Linked DNA regions of Homo sapiens: region 1 is reported to be linked to region 2. The links are microRNA targets in miRTarBase. Many come from high-throughput screens and were not tested one by one. Region 2 holds a microRNA gene; the other region holds the end of a gene's coding sequence.
The links. The annotated mature microRNA hsa-miR-490-5p reads CCAUGGAUCUCCAGGUGGGU and lies in region 2 at 2,366-2,385, shown strand. An mRNA with a match to its seed (bases 2 to 7 or 8) in the 3' UTR can be bound and repressed. Matches are read on the target gene's strand: a 7mer-m8 pairs with bases 2 to 8, a 7mer-A1 pairs with bases 2 to 7 and ends in A, and an 8mer does both.

Region 1 (3,000 bases), not on the chromosome of region 2:
CATTGATTACAAAACGAGTCTCAATTCCACACATGTCACAGTGTGAAAAGGATGCATCCTAACATTCATGAAATATTGGATACCAGTAGGCTGGACTTGGTCTGTGGCAGCCTTGCGCAGTTTCCAACCTGCACAACTGTACACAACAGCTCTTATGAAGCTTCCCAGAACACTGAAGAGCTTAGGGGCCACCACGAGGCTCACACTTGGGGCACATCTATGAACTCCCAAGTCCCTTAAGAAGTAATCCCTCTTTGATCTTCATCTGAACCAGGAAGGCCACAAAGAGGAAACTATGGGCCAGTTTCCTCCCATGGGGCACCAGTTCACTGAGAGTGGTCCTAGGGCCCCTGGGATGGTGGTTCGGCAGGCATGGGGTAGGGCTTCATGAGGGATTCTGAGTCCTGCCAGACTAGGAGAGGCCTCACATTTATAAGACCCAGAGAGGTGAGGGCCCTGGCCCAACATCACACAGCCGGGCAGAACAGAGCTGGGCTGAGGGCTCGGCACTCCTCACTCTAATCCCTGGTGCTTCTTCTCTTGCTGACTGTAAAAATGTCTGCTTTTCTGCCCCAGGTGAACTGGAGATAGGGGTCTCCGGGGCTGAAAGGGGTCTTGCCCCCAGCCCTGCCCCACTCCTTCCCCTCCGAAGCCCTGATTGCTGCACTTGTCCCCAGAGAAATCACCCATATTGATTCACAAGACTTTTAAATTTTATTAGTAAAATACAAAATGGCACAGACGTTGGTGATGAGGGTTGGAAAAGTCTTTCCAAAGTCTTCCTACTCTTTCCAAAGTCTTCCTAGATCATCCTTGTCCATGTCCTGCTTGGAGAAACTAACAAAGTCCATGGAAGGGGGACCAACTGGCCCCAGCGGCTTCCTCACAAAGGAGGCAGGGCCCCATCACAGGGTGTCCCACCCCTGGAAGGCTCTCCCAGCCTGGAAGAGCCAGAACAAAGTGCATTGGGCCCACTCCCACCCTCTCTGAGCTGCCAGAGTGACCCCACCTGAGCCAGGCCCTGAGCTTCCTGAATATGCTGCGCCACACCCAGCAGGGGAGTGCAGAGGCCAGGTGGGCAGGGCAGCACAGCGTCTTGCTCTCTATGGACCAGAGCTGGGTTTCCTTCCTCCAAGCACCCATCTGTGAAGGAGTGTTCCTAGCACCTGGGTAGAACCCAGCCCATAAGAGGCCCCTCAGGTAGACGGCAAGGGTCGGGGACAATCCAAGGGAGAGGTGAGCTGCCACCAGGGACCCTGAGGGGCCAGGCCAGCCGGTGCAGCCCCATCCAGGCATGCTCGAGCCTTCAGCAGCCAAAAAAGGGAACCCCTGACTTTATGCCTACAACTTCCCCTTTCCCATGTCCCAGCCCCCTTCCCGGGTAGCGTCCCTTTCAGAAACAAACAGGGGACTCATGGAAAACATCATGGAAATCCCTGGTCCTGTCTGCGGTGGGGACAAAGGTGAAGGAGAAGGTCTTGGAGGGCAGAGAACAGTGTTTTCAAGGAGTGAGAGAGGTGGGAAGGGAGCCCAGCCTCAGGAAAGAATCTGGCGTGTGTGGGGTGGGACCACAAGGGTCTTGTGGCCTGGCTGCCTGCAGGAGTCTCTGAAGAAGCATCAGGAATGTGGCTGCTCCTGGAGCCTTTCCTGGGCTTCTTGGACATGTGTCTGGAGCCCTCCCTCCCTCTTAGCGGGTGATGGGAGGCAGAGCCCGGGCTGTCTCAGTGACTAAGCCTGGGCGGGGCCTTCAGGGATGGTCTCTGCTCTGCCCATTTCCATTTGGGGGCCCACAGGGCAGGGTCTGTGCTATCAACTCACTCCCTTGCAGGCCCTCTGGGCCTCAGGGTCCAAAGACAAGTTAGTCCATTGGCAGGGACTGTCTAAGGTGCTCTGCTGGTAAGGACTGTGAGGCTGCATCCAGGGGCTGGAGAGAAGGGCCTCAGGTCAATGAGTGTTGTCAGGGGGACAGGTATTCCTTACCTCCCTCTTTCCTTTCACAGATGGGAGTATGTTGGTGGCTTGATGGTGGAACTAGGATCAGAACCCAGCCTTCAGACTCAGCACAGTGTAGACCAAAGAGGAAAGTCACCAGATACCCTTATCTCCCCTTCCCACAATGCCTAACCAAGGGCAGAGCCTCACTGGAAGCAGTGCCAGGAAACACCACACTAGCCTCATGCAAGAAAAGACATGTCACCAGTGGGGGCGTGGGCTCTGTACAGAGGATGGGGCTGGGGGAGATAGCACCGCAGGTGGCCGGGGTGACTGGCAACTGCAGCAGGACCAAGAGACACAATCAGGTTGCAGGGAGTGGGCAGAGGGCCTGGCCTGATGCTCATGTGTGAGATGGGAGGACTGTAGTACTCACAGGGCAGCATGGGTCAGAAGGGGCTGGGCATTTAATAAATAATTGTTCATTGGGGCTGGGATGGCGTCAAAGGGAACCTCTAACCAGCCAGCAGCAGAGGAGAGTTTTGGGGCTGGGGTGAGTTGGGAGGCCACCCCCTCTGTCCCTGGCAGGTGGAGAATGGTCAAGGCTGGCCTCCTGGGGAATGCCTGGGAGCTTGGAGCTTGTGCACCTGGAGGATCCCACCTCCCCCCTCCAATCATCCCAGCTCAGGCCAGGCCCTTGGGTGGGGGTGGGTATGAGGATGAGGGATCCCAGGCAGCTGTCTGAATCAAACAACTAGACACAGGCCAGAGGAGTTCACACGGGCACCAGGACATATGAATTACTACCACAGCTCCGGGGGATGTAGCGAAGGCCCTCCGCCATCTCTCCTGCCATCTTTCGAGGGCAGCCCTGGAGGCTCTGGTAGGTGAACATGGCCACCCCCAGGCAGAAGAGGAGGCCAAGGAAGGCCAGCAGCCCCACCGCCTGCCTCCGGGTGGCAGCCTGGGCGTCAGGGACAGGAGTGATAAGGACGCCCAGCCTCTGGGGGTCCATGGTGGCATGGATGGGTTCCTCAGCCTTAGGGGTCCAGCTGCCTGAAGCCACTG
Region 2 (3,248 bases):
ACAGAGAAGCAGACAGTGGCATATAGACGTCAGCAGGGGAACACTGAAAGATCTGAATGATATGGGTAGGGTACCAAGAATGTGAGCTACACACCTCTATTCATAACAGAATTTTGAGCTCCAATCAAGGCATGGATATATTCTTATTTATAAATTACATAGAAATAATTTTTCCATGATTATGTATATCATAGTACATACACAAAAAACCTCTTTTAGAGAATGATATAACAGTAATTGAGAACGGAGTTTCTAATACTTTCTTCCTGCAAGCCAGTAGATTGTCCTGTACAGCCCGGGGAGTGTGGGCACCCCCAAAGTGGAAACGAGTGCCCTGGGAAAGGAAAAATTCCATTTCCAAGATCCAGGCATGTGAGAATTACGTGAAATTAAATATGTGGACTTGCGGTTTTTGGTTCTTGGAAAAATAGAAAGGTATAGTGGGTTGCATGCAGTTCTAGCTGCATTCCAGCTAGAAACAGATTGAGACAGTTCAGATTCACAGGCACTTGCAGGGCAAGTTTTCAATGTCACTGTGGCTTTACCACGTAGGCAAATTTGAAAATAGACACACTAAATATTGACTACAGGAAAAGAAAAATGTGTATTTATTCATACAAAACACATTTATTTAGCATCTATAATGTGCTGTGCCCTGACCTATAGTGACCCAAACAGATTAGCAGATCTCACCCGATCTTGTAGTGCAGTGATTTGAATAGCAATGATCTTTGGACCCTAAGCAACCCAGTTTGGCCATTCCCTGATGTCATTTTTTTCCCCCATTTCCATTGTTATTTTTTGAGAACATACAGACGCTTTTTGATCCATTTGTTGTAAGAACCTAGCCTCTTGATCAGTTGCATTTACAAAATAACAACATTGATAATTTCATAAATGTGTAAGATTTACAGCTTACAAAGAACTTGCACACACATCTCATGCATAACTCACAAAACCTCTTAATTCTTTCCCAATAATACAGGGGAATCATGGACTCAGGGGCTGACCTCCAAAGACGCTGTTGGTGGTAAATTGTTAGAGCCCCGAGATGTGACTTAAATTTAGGTTTTCTGACAGAGGTGTGCTGCTCGTCTCTATGCTAATCCATTACACAGCCAGACAGGAAGAACTGTCAGTAGATTCTGATCAATTTCTCTTTCTATAAAAAAAAATGATAAGCTTAGTTAAATTGTATTAGATAAGTGAAGGGTTGTTTATAACAGTCCAGCCTCCCCTTAGCTTCTTCTATGGCTTTCATTAGGCTCCATCAAAGCCTACTCTCAAAACAAAATATAAAAATAATTGTTAACTACTAACATTGATTCTGTGATCTTCCTTTTAAACTCATCTATCTATCTATCGATCTATCTATCCATCCATCCATCCATCCATCCATCCATCCATCCATCCATCTATCCACCTAGCTATCCTTCTATGTTTGCAGTCAGTTGCTAGTTATTAAGATAATCAGAATTGCTTTCAGAATTAATAATTGGTATAAATTTCAGAAGAGTTTGAATTTAGGTGGCAAATTCATAATAAGTGAGAAGGTAAGCTATAGCATCCTCTGATAATGTGTGCAGTTTACTTTTTATCTGTCTCTTTCTAATTGAAAACTAACAAATATAGCCCCAATTAAATGCACGTAAAAATTAGAAGCTGGTGGGATAGGGTATTAAACACAATCCTAGATGACTCTTATGAACTCATACCATAAGCAGCCACTTTCTTTCTCGAGCAAACTATAGTGAGAATGAAGCATCTTAGATTGAGAAGGGATTAGGACGACCCTGAATGGAATGGGCAAATCATAAACAGCTAGGCCCTTAGAATTTGGTTGCAGTCCCAAACCCAGGTCAGTTTTTAAACATGACTATCAGCTAGATATCCTTTCTCCACCATACAATAATAGATAACAACCTTAATAAGACGTGTAGACATTAAACTTTGAAATTCCACAGTAAGATGTAAATATTTGCTCAATCAAGTACAATTTAATATGTTTGTTATACAGCAACTGCAGAGCACAGAATTTTGTACTCTTTGGATGTTTATGATAAGGTACACATTATTTGCAAGTTTTTGCTTGTTTCCTTGTTCAGTTTTTCATTATCAAACAAACAAAGCTTCTCAGCCTGGGATTAACCTGGAGTCTGGAAAGTATACATTATGGCCAGCAACTTTAAACAATAGGCCAGAGATGGGAAATGAATGAATGAAATTCTGACACAGAAGACAAACAACAGAAACTCATTTGGGCTAGTGTAGGTGTAGGTTTTTTATTCTTCAACCAACGGTGGTGAAGAGGATCTCCCTTCACTTTATGGAGGCCTTGCTGGTTTGGAAAGTTCATTGTTCGACACCATGGATCTCCAGGTGGGTCAAGTTTAGAGATGCACCAACCTGGAGGACTCCATGCTGTTGAGCTGTTCACAAGCAGCGGACACTTCCAACTCCATCTTCCCAAGAACTAAATGGGTGTCTTCTATAGTGTATGTGCAAATCTCCTTCAAAAGGAAGTCTTACTCTTCCTGCTTTCAAAAATGGGAACAAAATTCACACCTCAGCATCCAAGTATTTGTTATTTTTGTGGATATTGTTAGAGCTGGTGTCACAATGTAAACTACTAGGATGAAAATAAGTATTAAAAGATTTCTCTTTTAAAAAGCTGATTAGAAATGATAGAAGTATAAGTAAAATATTTGTTTGTGAATTTTAATTATGTACAGAATGAATTTTAGTAACAGGCAAATCTAGCATTTAAGACTGCAATTTTCTAAAATTTAAATTTATTGGATTTCTAAAGTTGGTGTATCAGCATATTATTCTTAAATAATACGCCTTCTGTTTTACAATATTTCTCATTTTTATTTATATCTTTAATTGGCTAAATGTTTTATAATGTTAATTAATAATGCTGAAACAGTCATTCTTGTGATGTTTTAATAACTCTACTAGTGTTTTAACAGTAATATGGCCTTGGGGTTTGGTTTAAAGTAGGTGTTGTACATGATATTAAGGAGATGACCTTTATCAAATGTTTTATTTTTCTTGTATTGGAATTATCATATATATATATTTTCTTATTCAGACTATGTGAAGTGACATGTTATTTGTTTTCCTGATACTAATACATTTCTAAATCCAATGGCTTTAATTGTCATGATATGTTACTCTTTTAATGTACTATTGAATTCCATTTGCTACCATTTTACTAAAGCATTTTGCATCTACATTTGCAAGTG

Region 1: the mRNA of CX3CL1 is a reported target of hsa-miR-490-5p. Seed matches in the 3' UTR shown: 7mer-A1 at 1,425-1,431 and 7mer-A1 at 1,413-1,419.

Annotation. Positions count from the first base shown.
Region 1 is chr16:57,382,740-57,385,739 of GRCh38, reverse strand. CX3CL1 (C-X3-C motif chemokine ligand 1) reads right to left here. Exons shown (of 3, transcript NM_002996.6): 3 at 696-3,000. The coding sequence ends at 2,708. Among named protein-coding and RNA genes, the nearest start is that of CX3CL1, 12 kb to the right of the region's middle. RefSeq lists enhancers at 1,069-1,228, 648-1,337, 1,338-2,028.
Region 2 is chr7:136,900,840-136,904,087 of GRCh38, forward strand. MIR490 (microRNA 490) reads left to right here and starts at 2,328; the gene lies at 2,328-2,455. The region is part of intron 2 of CHRM2 (cholinergic receptor muscarinic 2); the gene reads left to right. LOC349160 (a long non-coding RNA gene) reads right to left here. Exons shown (of 4, transcript NR_046103.1): 3 at 1,011-1,162.